Linked DNA regions of Homo sapiens. The protein of the gene in region 4 interacts with the protein of the main gene of each other region in a pairwise test. Each region holds a gene or a part of one and is shown on either strand. Other genes may lie near its edges. The genes, in order: MEOX2, GOLGA2, NCAPH2, ODAD4 and CEP70.

Region 1 (3,519 bases), on a different chromosome or scaffold from region 4:
TAATTTGGTAATAAATAATGTCAAGAGATTTTAAATGAAAATACTTATTCTGAAACATAAAAACAACATCTGAGATGAGCACAAATGGATCAATAGATACATTATTGATTATTTTGTATCATAAAATACTATCTAGTACAACATTCTTTAAAAAATTCAATATTTTTATAATGTAAGTAAAACGGGAAGAACTGTTAGAGAAATGGGCATCAGATTTAGATTAATTCTGCCTCTAACGCAAATTGTAGGCTGAGCCCTATATGTTCTTGACCATTCTAAGTTTTACTACATTAAAACACATAAAATATTCTGCGAGGTTTTCTCCAATGGGATTTTGAATCTCACTGATGACTGTGATTTAGGAGTAATGTAGAGAGTTTTGCAACTAACTTTACTTTACACCGTTACTCCTTTTCTACTTGGGGGTTCAGTTCAACACGCTAGTAAAAGAAATAGTCATGAGAGCATCCTAAGGAAAGTAGGCAAAATGTTAGTGCCTCATTATATTTACAATCTTTACAAAACATGTATGTCAGTAAACCATATTAACATCTAAAGCACATGATATGTAGAAACAAATTGTGACTACAAAATGTGTCTTGTTTCTTAAATATGCTAAATAGGAAATAAATCACATCTACTTCAATTTTTAATCTGTGGACTTTGGCCTTAGTTTGTGTTTTATTTTATTTTTTTGCTTTTGATTTTAACCACTGAAATCATTTACCAATACTATAAGCCAGGAAATACAATGTAACTGGCCAGTTGAGAATTAAGCCTTCTCTTTTTATTATTACAATCAAGGGGGGAAATGCTTATATATCTTCCTGCACAAAATGTTTCATTTATCAAAAAAAAAAGTGAGAAAAATAAAGAAAATTTGGGTGAGATAAATAATCCACAACTATTAATTCAACAGATATTATTTAAGAAATTCCTACCTGTAATTTATTTTCTAATATTTCTGCATCCTTAGTATTTATCGCTCAAAGATATTTGCAGCCCTCATAGCAGTGCTTGGAAAAGAGATTTGCTCTGAAAATTTAGAAATAAATTCCTGAGGTGAATACAGTTCAAAACTAAAATATATTGCTGTATTATATTGGTTTTTCTCATTTGAAATTAAAATCTAAAAAACCTTCATATTAGGTTGTGTGTGTCAAGCTGCCATTATAAAAACACTAAATGAATAAAATTTCGCAAGCAAGGCAGCATTATCAGGCTAAGTACATGTAGTGGGCTTATATATGGTGATGTTTTACATAATTCAGCTATTAATTCATCTATAGATTTACATTTCTTAAGTGCAAAAAAAAATGTAATTATTTCATTACATATGGAATTCACCTCCCAAATTTCTCAGAATCTAAGAGAAAGGATTGACATTTTCTGATATTTCATTTTTGCTTAAAATTAAGTTCTTAGGATGTTTAGATTTTATTATAAATATTACAACTTAAATTCCAGAGTTATAATGAACGGTCTATGTTTTGAAACACAGAGGGAGAATGGGGTAATGACTGAAGTACTGTTTTTTCAGTTTATTAGTAAAGATCAGCTTATAAGATGTCATTGTAAAGGTTTCTATTGATAATTACCATAAACAAAGATTAAAACTTTAAATACTAAGTTCTGGATTTCTAAGCCCGGTGAAAGTTTGTGCAATACCATGCCTTGCATTTATGATTTTTCTTTTAAAATGAACTATAAATGAAGAAATTTACACAGAATTGGAAACTATTCCTACTTTTATTTGCATTCTTCCTTCCATTCATTGCTAATGTTCAACAATAAAGCATTTTAATTCTAAAGGAATTGTTGCTTTTAACTTGAGTGTGATTATTTTAGATCACATTTTAGAGCCCTCATGTAGGTCAATGATACTTAGAATTTTTTATGTCAGATTACCATTTTTAAATGTTCACACCTAAAATTAGTCTACCAGTCCAAGATAAAGAATGGAAGTTTTTTTTTGTACTCCATTTGATTTGTTCAATACTTCACTTTAATCTTCAAGATCCAGTATATTATTTTTTAAATTCTAAAGCAAATGCTGAAAAGCCACAATCCAGTAACACAGAAATGAATAATAACACTAATTTATTCCTTTCAGAAAACACAATGATTGAAATATCTTGGAAATATTACAATATCATACTGAATGAGGTTGATAAGGTATTACTCTGAGTTTAAGTTCCAACTTATTAAATGTAATATTTGCTAGTCATTCTGCATAGTCAAGCATATAGACAGACATAATTTGACAGCAAAGGTTTTATGACATAGTAGCTATAAATAAAATATTTGTAATTTTACAAGAATCTAATATGATTCAAAACCTAGTAAAGTCTACCTCCCCAAATCGCTCTTTTCTTTTTTGATGTAATTTCTATTTTTTATAAAATATGTATCATAAATTTGAATAGAAAATATCTAGATATGTACACTGTATAACCATGCACAAAAGCTAAAGTTCGATCAATGAATTAATTTTAGTTATTTTAACTAAAACTGGGCAGTTTATTCCTACTACTAGATTGCTCAAAGAGCAACCAAATGTAATTGAAGCCAAGCAATTCACACTATTTATAGACATTTTTCAGAATCACCTGCTTTGTAGTGATTTTTTTCAGCAGTTGTAAAGTTTTGATTTTTAAGAGTCCCTTTGAAGACGTGGCAGATGTTGGCTTTGCTAATAATGCTGGAAAGCGTAGCAGGTTCAAAGTTACAAAAATGTTTAACACATATAAAATATAATGGTGTGTTTTTCTATTAAATTTGGTTATTTTCAATTGTCAATAAACTTACATAAAGGAAGCCTAAAGTCCATAAATATTTGCTTCCAAAACATGAAGCTGCTAGAGTTTGCATATGTGTGTGTCCATGTGCATTTGTGGAGGGAAAGTGCATAAAATATATGCTAGAGAAGCTTACGTATTATAGTTTTAAATCGTTACTATGAATAAAATTGTAAGGTTTATAAATATTTAAGCTGTTTTTCAATACTTTCTGGTGCTTAAAATTCTATTAGAATTTAACACGGTAATTAGAATTAGCACATACACATACAGTCTAAGTATTAGATGCAGGGATACAGAATTTTGGTCCTGACTTTACCCTGGATTTATGTACTGAATTTTCTCTCAACCATAAATGCAAAGTAATTATAAACTACCTAACAAAATACAAATGATCTCACTATATAGGATGACATTTTTATCTAATACAATTTTAAATTTCAGGAGTTCCGAAATCACTTCAATTTTATATTTTAGAAATATTGAAATACTAAAATGTGCTATAAGCAATGAGAGATATACGTATTAATAGCATACCAGGATCATAATCATTTTCAATATTGTTTTAGTTTGTGCTAGATCAAGATGTCTATGAAATAAAATATCTTTGAAGATAATTTATGGAACACCTAATGCAATTGTTACACGAGAAAGATATCTTTAATTTAAATCTATCTCAATATCTGACAAATATACCTTCAGCTGAAATTGGCAAATAAAA
Region 2 (3,519 bases), on a different chromosome or scaffold from region 4:
TAGTACCTGAGGACAATCCTAGGATTCAGAACTTGGGGTCATGTGGAGCCTCTCCCTTGCCCCCAACTGGACCTACCTGCTTGATCAGAGCCCCACCCAGCCTCTCTCCAGGCTCTGACCTTACTCTTCGCCCAAGCCTCTGGTTCTAGAGATCTTCTAATATCTGACAAGCCAGATGGGCAGACAGTGGAAAAAGCTGGCTGACCAGCTAAGCTGGACAAGAGAAAAACACCAGGGAGCCAGGGCCTGGCCACGGAAGCTGGGTCTGGGAGAAGTGACTACACCTCTCTCCAGGGAAAGGACTGCGCGCTCACTGGACCCTTCAGCCCTGGCTTCTGAAAACCCAAATCTGCTTCCCTCCTTAGAGCAAGTGCTGCAGAGGCTGGTGGAACTGAAGATGAGCCAAGCTGCCTTTGCATCTTTGCAAGTTTACTGTGACCATGGAACCTGGTGTTTCCTTGACAATGCCTACAACTGAATCTAATAGGTCAGAGCAAGGGTTCAGTTGCTGGCCAGGCATTAGCCTTGAGGGAAGGCTGGCACTCCTAGCAATGGACCCTGCTAGGCTTTAGGGCCCTCCTGGCATCTTCGGTTCCCACTGATCTCTAGGATTAGACACAAGAATGCTCAGAGGAAGGGAATTTTTTTTTTTTTTTTTTTTTGAGATGGGAGTCTCACTCTGTCGCCCAGGCTGGAGTGTAGTGGCGAGATCTCCACTCACTGCAACCTCCGCCTCCTGAGTTCGAGATTCTCCTGCTTCAGCCTCCCAAGCAGCTGGGATTATAGGTGCACGCTACCACGCCCAGCTAATTTTTGTATTTTTAGTAGAGATGGGGTTTCACCATGTTGGCCAGGCTGCTCTCGAACTCCTGACCTCAGGTGATCCACCCTCCTCAGTCTCCCAAAGTGCTGGGATTACAGGCATGAGCTACTGCACTTGGCTGAAAAAGCATTTTTCTGAGGACTTTCTGACACACATAGCATGATTATTTTGTGAGCAACCAAGTTATTTCATTATTTTAAGTCTTGTAGCCAAGATGGAGTTTTTAAAAAAGCCTACTCTCCTCAAAATGTCCCATCCCATTAAGATATTTTTTCTCTCTCCATTATTCCCTACTTCTGGAAATGTTATCAGCTCCGCTCAGGATACTACGATCACAGGCCTGCATTCCTGGAGTAGAAAACTTACATGGTAATAAAAATGAGAAATTAAAAAAAAACAAAACCTACATTGGAAACAGTTACGGATATAGAGAAGGTATAAAAACAGCAAGGGGCTGGGCATGGTGGCTCACACATGTAATCTCAGCACTTTGGGAGGCCAAGGCAGGTGAATCACTTGAGGCCAGGAGTTCGAAACCAGCCTGAGCAACATGGCAAGACCCCATCTCTATTAAAAATACAAAAAAAATGGCCGGGCGTGATGGTGCAACATCTGTAATCCCAGCTACTTGGGAGGCTGAGGCATGAAAATCACTTGAACCCGGGAGGGGGAGGTTGCAGTGAGCCAAGATCACACCACTGCACTCCAGGAGAAAGAGCAAGACTCTTTCTCAAAAACAAAAACAAAACAGCAAGAAGGAAATACGGGGATCTAGGCCTTTGTTTCCAGAATAGAGGGACCTGGGCTGGCACAGAATCTCAGAGCATTAGGAAACAGGCTGAAGACCCCCTAATCCACTGGACCATTGGCAGAGCAAAAGCCAAATGCTTTTGGCTGCAGGTCACCTCTAAGCCTGTGCTCCCCAGCCGTACCACTCAGCGTCTCCTCTGAGCTGGCAAGGTGAGTCACAGCACCTGGACAGACCTGATCAACTGGAGGGTAACAGGTATGAGACTGGACAACTCTCTAACAGCAGCCAAGGCTGCTCTGTCTCAGTCCCTCTCCCCATACCCATCTCCAACAGGATCAGGCTCTATTCGTGCCCTGCTCCTCTGGCTTGGCAGGAAGGAGTCCCCCAGGTGAGTTAGAGATGGAAGAAATGCCAAATCACAGCCAGAGGAGGTTGTCTCCCAGCCCTGTGTACCTCCATGCCCTGCCCCCCACCAGGCTCCCTGTGTTCCTGAAAGGTGCTCTGTGAGTTCACACTCTGGCCACGGCCTCACCGCTCCCCCTGCCTCCCCCACTCCCCATATGGATTAATGTTACCCACCTTTAATCTTCAAGCCAGCTTCAAATGCCACCTTCTCCAGCCTGGAGTCCATTTGGAACCAACCTCCCCCCGAGCTGAGCATTTGGAATGTTCCAAAATTCTCTCTTGCCTCCTTCAGAGGAGTCTGCCTCCCTCGGTGTGCAGCCTACCTTGTTCATCTATTTTATCCACTGTTTATTTATCAAAGTGCCTTTGTTGTCAAGAGCCCAATGAATATGGCTAAATGTCCATTTGGAGAGATTAGGGGCAGAACGTCTTGGTCACTCATCTGTTTGGTTAACCTCACAACTTTTACAGTTAGTTCCTCTGAAAAAATAGCTTCAATCCTTCCAACTATAATGTGAACTCATTTTCTTTTAACCCTTTGTTCCCTACTCTTAAACCAAAGTGAATTAATTTAAAAAAAAAAAAAAAACACTAACTTCTAGGTGGTTTACTGATCTTTGCCTTTAGGGTAAAACCTAAAGGTCTGTTGGTTTTTTTGTGTTTTTTTTTTTTCATCTCTCCTAGTCTGAGAGTACCCACACTGGGCATTCAAAAGCCCAAATCCCAGAATCCCAGACTGGGAGCAGTGGCTCACGCCTGTAATCCCAGCACTTTGGGAGGCCAAGGTGGGTGGACCACTTGAGGTCAGGAGTTCAAGACCAGCCTGGCCAACATGGTGAAACCCCATCTCTACTAAAAATACAAAAATGAGCCAGACATGGTGGCAGGCACCTGTAATCCCAGCTACTCAGGAGGCTGAGGCAGGAGAAACACTTGAACCCAGGAGGCAGAGGTTGCAGTGAGCCAAGATTGTGCCACTGCACTCCAGCCTGGGCAGTGAGACTCCGTCTCTGAAAAAAAAAGAAGAAAAAAAAAAGCCCCAAATCCCACACACCTGCTCTAAAAGTTATTCCCAAATTACCTTTAAACTTTTAAACTTTAAGATATGTCTCACCTTCTCCAAGATGATAAAAGATTTGGGGGAAGAATAAAAACCCAATCAATCAAGCAGGTGAAGAAGCGGACATAAACAGGCGGAAGGTTAATGGCAGCAACATAAAATAAGCCAGAGGCAAAGTATCCCCCAAACCAGAGAAGCCTCAGGGGCATGCACAGCTGGAGAGAGCAAGCCAGAGAGGGGTCTCGGCACTGCCTCACCTTCCACTTGTCCAATGGGGGGAGCGCTACCCCATTGGAACGGTTAAGGTCGGACACCAGCACCTTCAGAATGTCCTGAATCTACAGGAGGCGAAAAGGGAAAAACAAGGGCAGGGGGAGAAAGGTAGAAGTGGCTTAGAGAGAGGCAAGAAAGTCAGGGAAGGAGGAAGATGTGGGTTCAGGGAAATGAAATAAGAAGAGTGGAGGAGATCAATACCATGGC
Region 3 (3,519 bases), on a different chromosome or scaffold from region 4:
GGTCGTCTACGGAGTGTAAGGACCTCGGGGGTGTTCAGGACCTGAAGAGCTGGTCCAGAAAGAAGGGAACATGGAGGAGATGGCGGCCTGGAAGCTGAGCTGCAGAAGTGGCCCTTCTCTCCAGTGACCCTCAGCCTGGCTGGCTTGCCCACTCCCAAGACACTACTGGGCTTCACTTGTCTTCTCACCTCCCCAGGTTGGACCTGCCATCTGAGCCCAAACCCACATGTTCAGCTGCCTTCTTCAAACATCGCTTGGATGGCTTCACCAAGATTCATACTGAATGCATCCACACTGAACTCCAAATAGCCCCCAACCCACCTGCCCAGAAACCCAGGGGTTCCTCTCCACAGTCACCCCCATTCTGGCCCCACCACCTCCCCTTTCACCTCTGCACTGACAGGGCTCCTCCTGCCCTTCACTCCCCTCCCGTCCACTCTCCACGCTCTGCTCAGTGCCTCTGTTTAGGATTTTGGGTTTTTCCTAACAGTGGCAGGAAAAACCCAAAATCCTAAACGGAGCCAGAGGGAGGCCTCCATGCTGGCCAGCCTCCCTCTCCAGCTGCCTGCCCTCCTCTGCTCTATGGTCCCAACTTGGAACCTTCTGTTTTGTTTTGTTTTGTTTTGTTTGAGACGGAGTCTCACTCTGTCACCCAAGCTGGAATGCAGGGGCGCAATCTCAGCTCACTGCAACCTCCGCCTCCTGGGTTCAAGTAATTCTCCCTGCCTAAGCTTCCTGAGTAGCTGGGATTATAGGCGCCCGGCTAATTTTTGTAAAAACTCCAATCCTTCCAACACCAGGTTTCCTCCACCTGGAGCTAAACATTCTTTAGCTCACCATAAATAAGTAACTGCTTTCATCTCAAACAAACTAAGCCCCCCAAACTCTCCACAGGACCATACATTTTCTTTCAAATCCCTTATAAGTTTCTGGTGATTTTTTCGGTTGGTTGGTTGGTTTTGGTTTTTGTTTTTGAGACAGTCTCTCGCTCTGTTGTCCAGGCTGGAGTGCAGTGGCACAATCTCGGCTCACTGCAACCCCTGCCTCCCAGGTTCAAGTGATTTTCCTGCCTCAGCCTCCCAAGTAACTGGGACTACAGGCATGCACCACCATACCTGGCTAATTTTTTTTGTACTTTTAGCAGAGACAGGTTTTCACCATGCTGGTCAGACTCATCTCGAACTCCTGACCTCAAATGATCCTCCTGCCTCGGCCTCCCAAAGTGCTAGCATTACAGGCGTAAGCCACCTCGGCCTCCCTAAGTGCTGGGATCACAGGCGTGAGCCACCTCGGCCTCCCTAAGTGCTGGGATCACAGGCGTGAGCCACCTCGGCCCCCCAAAGTGCTGGGATCACAGGCGTGAGCCACCTCGGCTCCCCAAAGTGCTGGGATCACAGGCGTGAGCCACCTTGGCCCCCCAAACTGCTGGGATCACAGGCGTGAGCCACCTTGGCCCCCCAAAGTGCTGGGATCACAGGCGTTAGCCACCTCGCCTGGCCATCAGTTTCTGACTACACAAAGTCACACGCAGGGGTGGAGGCTGGATTCTGATCTGCCAGGAACCACTATCATTCAGAGTACATCTCTAACGCCTCTACTAACAAGGTTTTTGTGAGGACTCTGCATTCATATGTGTAAAGCACATAAAACAGGTGCTTAACACAAGTAAACACCAAATGCATATTTATTACACCCCCATGCGGTTACTCTCTTGGACCCGTCTTCCCATGACAGAGGAAGTCCTACCATAGTGGGGATTATCATTTGCTTTGCTTGGCACTATTTTTTCAAAGTTTAACATGGTTCTTGGCACACAATTCACAACTAACAACAATGAATAAATAAATGGATAAAAGAGAGTAGGATCATGACAGTACTAGAAGAACATTCTGGCCAGTGCAATGGCTCACACCTATAATCCCAGCACTCTGGGAGGCCAAGGCAGGTGGATCACTTGAGCTTGGGAGTTTGAGAACAGCCTGGGCAACACAGTGACACCCCATCTCTACCAAAAATACAAAAAATTAGCCAGGTGCGGTGGCACATGCCTGCAGTCCCAGCTACTTGGGAGATGGGAGGATCACTTGAGCCTGGGAGATCGAGGCTGCAGTGAGCCATGATTGCACCACTGCACTCTAGCCTGGGCAACAGGGCAAGAACCTATCTAAAAAAAAAAAACAAAAAAAAAAAAACAAAGGACAAAAAAAAGAAAAAGAACATCATGGTAGTGTGTGGAAAATGACAGAAGGAAAAAGATAATACTAGAAACCAGGAAATCAGGACTTCAAGCTGCAGAGGTTTGGAAGAGCAGACATAAGAAAGCAGGAAGGGAGCTGACCAAGCCAGGAAGGAGATTTACCAAGTGAACAGGTGTCCTCATGGACCCTGCTTGATGTGAAAACCTGAATCCACAGGAGCTCTGCCCAGCACAGTTCCCCGTATTTTCTCAGCCAACTATGCATGAGAGCAGAGAAGTTTGGTCATCAGATCACATGTGCATTTAACAAACACTTTAACGTCCACACCTATGTGCCAGGCACTCTACTAAGCAGACAAAAGAGGGCATAAGTATGGTCCCTGCCCTGGCAGAATTCACATTCTAGGGTGGAGACAGGCCACAAACAGGTAAATGAGTTGAAGAATGGCTTGTGGCCAGTCGCAGTGGCTCACACCTGCAATCCCAGCACTTTCAAAGGATGAGGTGGGCGGATCACGAGGTCAAGAGTTCAAGACCAGCCTGGCCAACATGGTGAAACCCCATCTCTACTAAAAATACAAAAATTAGCTGGGGCCAGGCACGGTGGCTCACACCTGTAATCCCAGCATTTTGGGAGGCCGAGGCGGGTGGATCACGAGGTCAGGAGACCAAGACCATCCTGGCTAACATGGTGAAACCCTGTCTCTACTGAAAAATACAAAAAAATTAGCCAGGCGTGGTGGCGGGCGCCTGTAATCCCAGCTACTGAGGAGGCTGAAGTAGGAGAATGGCGCGAACCCAGGAGATGGAGCTTGCAGTGAGCCGAGATTGTGCCACTGCACTCCAACTTGGGCCACAGGGCAAGACTCTGTCTCAAGAAAAAAAAAAAAATTAGCCAGGCGTGGTGGCAGGCGCCTGTAATCCCGGCTACTCAAGAGGCTGAGGCAGGATCGGACGCGGTGGCTCAGGCCTGTAATCCCAGCACTTTGGGAGGCCGAGGCGGGTGGATCATGAGGTCAGGAGATCGAGACCATCCTGGCTAACACGGTGAAACCCCGTCTCTACTAAAAAAATACAAAAAATTAGCCGGGCGTGGTGGCGGGTGCCAGTAGTCCCAGCTACTCGGGAGGCTGAGGCAGGAGAATGGTGTGAACCCAGGAGGTGGAGCTTGCAGTGAGCCGAGATTGCACCACTGCACTCCAGCCTGGGCGACAGAGTGAGACTCCGTCTCAAAAAAAAAAAAAAAAAAAAAAGAGGCTGAGGCAGGAGAACTGCTTGAACCCAGAAGGTGGAGGCTGCAGCAAGCTGAGATTGCACCACTG
Region 4 (3,519 bases):
GGCTAGGGCTGCTGGTGGCACTGAAATTAGAATGCACGATGGGCAGTGCCAAGCCCCCAGATTGGGGAGCTGCTGTCGCATGTGTCTCGGACTAGAGGAAAAGAAAGCAGAGGGAGAATGCTGAAGTTGCCTTTTCAGAGTTTCAGGAACTCACCTCCCTCGCTTTTTTCTTTGAGATTCTCCACGTAGTTGGTTTTCCTCAGTTCTCTGATGATACCCTTGTTGGCATCGTCCAAGGCCTGTGGATGGTAGAGGGAGCTTAGCCCCTGTGTTTGGCACCTACACCATTAATTTTCCCCACCCAGATCAATCCCAGAAGGCAGGGCTCTGGTGGGAACCTGCCACCCTTGGTTTCCCTCTGGCCCCTCCAATGACCCCTACCCTCAGGTTAATCTACACTTACTGACTCAGAATGATCCACACAAATTGTGTCTGGGAGATACATGACTGCGAGTCAGTCAAATGCATTTCTCTTTGGCTTAGGCATGTATTGGGAGTTGTGTCTATCTACTCATTTCTACCTTTAGATGAACTACCTAAAGCTGCTTTTGGCTTCAGTCAATGCAAAAAGACAATCCAAACCTGCAAGCACTCAGCAAGGCAGCACTGAAAAGACCCAGAAACACACCAAGGGGACAGGCTGGGGGCTGGCCTGCCTTCAGAAGGGCCTTCCAGAATGTCTGCAGTTTCCCCAACTCGAGTGCATGATCCACAGGGGCCTGGAGCCCCTGTGAGCCTCTGGAGGGCAGGTCTTGCCTTCTTGCTCATAGCAGGCCCGTGGCTGGCACTGACAGAACACCAGCTACACATGGTAGTGTCTACTGAGCAGCTCCGGGGCCTGGATGCACTCTCTTGTGGTGTTGGTCTGCCCACCCCCCACCTCCCTCCCACTGTGAGCCTTCCTACCTGGAGTTGCCAATCCAGGAGGGTGAGGGGTCGGGGGCCTGGTCCCATGAGGAGTCAGTGAGGGTCACAGGTACCTTCTCTCTGCCCCTAACCCTTCAAACTACTGCCTAGCCTTCAAGGTGACCTCAGATCCTCCTTGTTGGAAAGCCTCCAGCTCTGCCTCCCAGCTGGGGCTCTCTCACTCTGAATTCCCCTAGTCCCCTATGGCACTGGTCATGAACCAGGGTTTGTGCTTTGTTTTTTGTTTGTTTGTTTGTTTTTTTTTTTGAGACAGAGTCTCGCTCTATCATGCATGCTGGAGTGCAGTGGCACGATCTCAGCTCACTGCAAGCTCCGCCTCCTGGGTTCACGCCATTCTCCTGCCTCAGCCTCCTGAGTAACTGTTTTTTTGTTTGTTTGTTTTTTCTTTTTAAGAGACAGGGTCTTGCTATGATGCCCAGGCTGGTCTAGAACTCTTGGACCCAAGTGATCCTCCTGCCCTCAGCCTCCCAAAGTGCTGGGATGACAGGTGTGAGCCACTGTGTCTGGCCTTTCGTTGTAATCTTCTTGTGGGCTAGGACAATGGCCGCACACATTTGAGCTTGGCAGCCTGGAGCCAATCTACACTCGGCGAATATTTCCTGAACTGAACGGCCATGCTGTCTGTCTGCAGGGCGATCACATGGAAGTATGTGGCGCATGGTACATCTGGCAGGGCTGCAGTGAGGTGGGTGCTCTTCGCCTGGAAGCCAGAGCTGGGGACATGGCATTTATGACGAGGACGACAACATGCTAGGCCTGGGCTTCCCTGGGCCGTATGGTGGCAGAGGATAGACTGCGCCTGCTGGGGTCTTTTGGGTATGATTTCTCCGCCATGAGAGGGCAGTGTTAGCCTTACCACAGTCCTCACAAACAGCTCACCATGAACCTGCCTCCCAAAAAACAGAGGTGATCAGATCACTTCTCTGCTGTCCACAGCCCTTCAAGTCCAGGCTGGTGTGCTGACTGTCTGGGGCTCTGTCACCACCATCCCCCGCCACCGGGAACCCCCCAGCTCTGGGACCCAGGCCAGGATCTCTCTTCTGCCGGCCACCAGCCCTCAGCGCCGACCTCCCACGTCTTCAGTGCACTTGCCCCTCCTCGGCCTGGCCAGCTCTGCTATCCTTGTCCTTCAGAGCACAGCATGAGGTCTTCCTCCCACTGGGAGTGTCCTGAGCCTTCACTTCTCAGGGTCCCTGCTCTCTTTGCCCAGTGCCTGCAGACCCCAGGCTGGTCCCTGAGGCCATGCCCCTTTGCTGCCCACAAGTTATGCAATCTGGCTTCTTTCAATGATGGCATAAGCTCCCCAAGGACAGGGGCCCCGTTTACTTCACTCCAGCAGATACTTCCTGGGGTCCAGCTGCGTGCCAGTGGTGCTCTGGAATTTGGCTGTGGGAAGGGCTTAAGGAAGCTGTCTGGTCAGAAGCAGGAGGAAGAGGCCTGGGTGAGTGTGCACCTGTGAAGTTGGTGTGCAGACTTTACTAAGCTTGTGCGTCCACCTGGATGCACTGGGAGTGGGTGGGGTGGGGGAGCCCAGAGCACCTCCAAGTTTCTCCCCTGGTCTCTGCCTCCTGACACAGTCTAGGCCAGCACTATTCAACAGAAATTTCTGTGACAATGGGAATATTCTAGATCTGTATTATGTAGCACCCATAGGCCACATGTAGCTTTTTTTTTTTTTTTGAGACGGAGTCTCGCTCTGTCGCCCAGGCTGGAGTGCAGTGGCGTGATCTTGGCTCACTGCAACCTCCATCTCTCAGGTTCAAGCAATTCTCCTGCTTCAGCCTCCCGAGTAGCTGGGACTACAGGAGTGTGCCATCACACCTGGCTAATTTTTTGTATTTTTAGTAGAGACAATGTTGGCCAGGATGGTCTCAATCTCCTGACCTCGTGATCCACCCGCCTCGGCCTCCCAAAGTGTTCGGATTACAGGTGTGAGCCACCGCACCCGGCCTCACATGTGGCTATAATGACTTGAAATGTGGCTAGTGTGACTGAGAATTTTACATTTTATTTACTTTTTTTTTTTTTTTTTTGAGATGGAGTTTCGCTCTGTTGCCTAGGCTGGAGTGCAATGGCATGATCTTGGCTCATGCAACCTCCACCTCCCGGGTTCAAGCGATTCTCCTGCCTCAGCCTCCCAAGTAGCTGGGACTACAGGTGTGTGCCACCATACCCGGCTAATTGTTTGTATTTTTAATAGAGATGGGGTTTCACCATGTTGGCCAGGCTGGTCTCAAACTCCTGACCTCAGGTGATCCATCCATCTCGGCCTCCTAAAGTGCTGGGATTACAGGCATGAGCCACCACACCCAGCCTAGTTTTAATTAACTTTAGCCTCACGTGGCTAGCAGCTGCCTCCTTAAGCAATGGAAGTCTAGGCAATTACAAGTGCACAACGTGGACTTTGATGGGGGACATATCAAGGCTGTGAAACCTGATGTGAGGGCTCCTCACCCAGACTGAGGGGTCAGAGAAGGCCGCCTCAAAGAGGGGACATCTAAGCTGAAACCTAAAGGTTGAGTGGGAGTTAGCCAGGTGAAGGAGGTGGGAAGGGAAGGTTTAGAATATTCCAGGCAGAGATAACAGCATATG
Region 5 (3,519 bases), on a different chromosome or scaffold from region 4:
AAGCCCTTCTTGGGGGCTACAATCAGAGTGTTCTCTTTCTCCTCCAGACTCTAGAGCACAAGTTATCTGCATCATTCACTCAGAACTTCAACCGGTAATCTATTTTTATGTCACTCATTTCCTTTAACGATATAAATGATTACATTTTGTTTCATATTTTTTAGTATATTTTGTCTAATTAGTCTGAATCTTGTGTTCATCCCATAATGGCTTAGCATGATAAACGATCAATAACTATCCATTAGTGTGATTCTTCCCTTTGTCTTCTTCCTCTTCTAGTCTTTTCTTCTAGGAAGGCTAGGGCTTTTTCTAGTCCATCCCTTCTGAGATGAAGAAAGGTGGAGTCAGCACTGTTTCCTCCTACTGGGAGAACCCTCTGACAGGCAGTGATTGAGGAAATACCATGATTTACACTATTACTAATTATTTTACACTCTTCTGAGATACAGACTGGAGGAACTCCGGTCTATAAAGTAAGTATATTAATCTAGCACTGTCACTCAATCAAAATGTTTATGTATTGTATAGCTCTGTCTGAGCCCTATATAAAAAGGGAAGTCGAAATTTAAAAAAAATTAACATCACCACCCCCAATTTTGTTGTCTTGGAATATAATATTCTGCTTCATTCCTTTTAACAAATATTAATTGAGCACTCATTCATCAGGAGGATCTTGGGGACATATCAGAACAAATAAAAACACTGTCTTCATGGAGCTTATACATTCTTAACAGATATCTTCTGCATCATTTGTACTTCATGTAATAAGACTTATGTTGCAAACACTGTTATTGAATCACATTTTCATTAACAGGCATATGCTATGTATTATATTAGTTACTAATAAATCTAAAGTGTAAAGGGCAAAGAAGTTAAATACTACTGATTTCAACTATTTACCTTTCAGCAAACTAGTTAACAAAAACTGAAAAAACCTGAAGCTATGCAATAAATACACAATAACTCTATAAATAAAATGTGGTCTTCCATGAAGAGATAGGATAGGGAAGGGTAGCGTTGGCTGCTAGCTTACTATCTGTTCTAGAGAATAAGCAGAAATGGAGATAAGCTCAGTTCTGAGAGACAGAAAATAAAGTGTGAAGAGAGAGAAAATATCCCCAATTATAATAAAATGAAGGATAAGACATTATATCTGAAGAGGGATAAGGGCCAGGAAAATCGCAGCATGGAGATATGAAAAGGAGGCAGATGAAGGTAGAACAGGGAAGGGCCTAGAAGTACAAAGTGGATCCACTATAGATTTTCAATAAGGAAACTAACCCCAAAATTTCTTGTTTGGTAGAATCTTAGAGGAGGTAAAGCTTACAGTAATGACAACATCAAATAGACAGTACCTAAAATAGATATGTAAGTAGGAAGATTTCGGTTTTAGATAATAAGCTTTTTTAGCTTTAGAGTTAACACACAAACAAAAAAATTAAACCCTATTTAATTTTTAGCCCTGAATTAAGTCCTATTAATAAAGCACATAGAGTCCAATAGATGTTCAAAGCATATAATCATAGTCAACCCCTTACCTTTAAGGATGTCAGTTGATCTGCCCACATTTCTATTACAGGAACAAGATGCTCAAATCCACAATCTTGAACAAGATCTTTATTAAAATTTTGGACTCCCCCTTTGGTCTGTTTATAAATTATTACTGGAGCTCTTGGATTGTGGATAATTGAATTGATGCTACACAGCACCTTTAAAAAAACATAGTGTATATAGTCAAAATATTTATCCTATGCCTACAAAGTTATATATTTTAAAGGAGTGCTTTATGTCTATATATATTATATACACATATTTCATTAAATATACAAAGAAAATTATCATAAGGAATTGGCTCATGCAATTATGAAGACTGACAAGTCCCAAGATCTGCAGTGAGTAAGCGAAGACCCAGAAAAGGTAATGGGTATTTGCAGTCCAAATGCAGGCAGACTGAGACCCCTGCAAGTGCTAATGTTTCAGTTTGAGTCTGAAGGCAAGAAAAAAACCAGTGTCCCATCTTGAAAGCAGTCAGGGAGGAGGAGCTCCCTCTTATTCAGCCTTTTGTTCTACTCAGGGCTTTGAATCATTGGATGAGGCCCACCCCATTAGGAAAGGCAGTCTGATTTACTAAAGTCTACTGATTCGGATGTCAATCTCATCCAGAAGCACCTTCCCAGACACATCCAGAATAATGTTTAACCAAATATCGGGCATCCTATGCCGCAGTAAAGTTGAAACAAAATTAACTATTACAAACACTACCTAGGTTCAAAAATTGTTAGTATTTTGCCATATTTGCTCACTATCTATATTTTTAGGTGAACCATTTGAAGAAACTCTTCACCCTCAAATAATAAAGCATGCATCTTTTAAAAGTAGGCATATTCTCCTACAAACTCACAAGAACATTATCAGACTATTTAAGGAAATTAACAGCAATCCCCAGGCTGAGTGTGGTGGCTCATGCCTGTAATCCCAGCACTTTGGGAGGTTGAGGCAGGAGGATCACTTGAGCCCAGGAATTCAAGGCTGCAGTGAGCTATGATAATGCACTTCAGCCTGGGCAACAGAGCAAGACCCTGTCTCCAAAAATAATATCATTGATGCCTGGATTGAATTTTAGGTATCTTAATATATTAAGATAGTATACTATTTGACTATAACCCTCTCCCCATAAGTGATGGGTTCTACCTTACATATCATCCGAGGAAAAAAAGGGAGACCTCAAAAAGCATGTTTAAAGAGAGAAGAATAAAGCCATTTCCTATTACCACCATCAAGTTCAGCCTATTTAATAAAAAGTTTCACAATATAAAGATAGCATTTTGCTCTTGAATCTTTGTCCCTGGTCATACTTCAAGATATAACTAATAGGCCTCCTGGTAATATGACTTAAGATGTTTATTACTTCAGATGTTTATTTAGAAGCTTTTTAAGTCCAAATTAGTATAATTCAATATTTCACTTCAAATTGATGTATGTATATTTGTTTTATATATTTATTTGACAGAGTCTCACTCTGCAGCCTAAGATGGAGTGCAGTGGTGTGAACGGAGCTCACTGCAGCGTTGAATTCCTGGGCTCAAGTGATCTTCCCATGTCAACCTCTCAAGTGCTAGGACTACAGGCACAAGCCACCATGCCCAGCTAATTAAATTTTTTTTTTTCTAGAGATGTGGTCTCACTATATTGCCCAGGCTGGTCTCAAACTCCTGCCCTCTAGCAATCCTCCTGCCTCGGTCACCCAAAGTGTTAAGATTACAGGCATGAGCCACCATACCCGGCTTGAATTCCCCTTTTAAAGGACAAAGCCTCTCAAATTGAGTCTCAGAAACAAAATGAAATCCAGTTATATACTGGTACAAGAAAGTCTAAAACAAAACAGTTTTCAGAAAGGTGCTTGGTTCCCATTTACAATAGCAATAAAAGTTATAAAATACCTAGGAAATAACAAGGTATTTCCTAACAAGAAATATGCAAGAGCTAAATTTAAAAATACACAACACTTTATTGAAGACT

The links.
Region 1: the proteins of ODAD4 (region 4) and MEOX2 interact in binary tests that used the Homo sapiens proteins (3 or more experiments, as listed by UniProt).
Region 2: the proteins of ODAD4 (region 4) and GOLGA2 interact in binary tests that used the Homo sapiens proteins (3 or more experiments, as listed by UniProt).
Region 3: the proteins of ODAD4 (region 4) and NCAPH2 interact in a two-hybrid assay, tested with the Homo sapiens proteins (one large-scale study listed by BioGRID and IntAct).
Region 5: the proteins of ODAD4 (region 4) and CEP70 interact in binary tests that used the Homo sapiens proteins (3 or more experiments, as listed by UniProt).

Annotation. Positions count from the first base shown.
Region 1 is NC_000007.14:15,680,170-15,683,688, forward strand, and holds part of MEOX2 (homeobox protein MOX-2), read right to left. Parts: intron 1,812-3,519; exon of another isoform or gene 1-1,811. UniProt on the Homo sapiens protein: Mesodermal transcription factor that plays a key role in somitogenesis and somitogenesis and limb muscle differentiation. Required during limb development for normal appendicular muscle formation and for the normal regulation of myogenic genes.
Region 2 is NC_000009.12:128,269,489-128,273,007, forward strand, and holds part of GOLGA2 (golgin subfamily A member 2), read right to left. Parts: intron 3,378-3,519; coding exon 3,297-3,377; intron 1-3,296. UniProt on the Homo sapiens protein: Peripheral membrane component of the cis-Golgi stack that acts as a membrane skeleton that maintains the structure of the Golgi apparatus, and as a vesicle thether that facilitates vesicle fusion to the Golgi membrane.
Region 3 is NC_000022.11:50,511,217-50,514,735, reverse strand, and holds part of NCAPH2 (condensin-2 complex subunit H2), read right to left. Parts: intron 1-3,519. UniProt on the Homo sapiens protein: Regulatory subunit of the condensin-2 complex, a complex that seems to provide chromosomes with an additional level of organization and rigidity and in establishing mitotic chromosome architecture.
Region 4 is NC_000017.11:41,958,102-41,961,620, reverse strand, and holds part of ODAD4 (outer dynein arm-docking complex subunit 4), read right to left. Parts: intron 240-3,519; coding exon 155-239; intron 1-154. UniProt on the Homo sapiens protein: Component of the outer dynein arm-docking complex (ODA-DC) that mediates outer dynein arms (ODA) binding onto the doublet microtubule. Plays an essential role for the assembly of ODA-DC and for the docking of ODA in ciliary axoneme.
Region 5 is NC_000003.12:138,503,757-138,507,275, forward strand, and holds part of CEP70 (centrosomal protein of 70 kDa), read right to left. Parts: intron 1,710-3,519; coding exon 1,539-1,709; intron 122-1,538; coding exon of another isoform or gene 80-121; exon of another isoform or gene 1-79.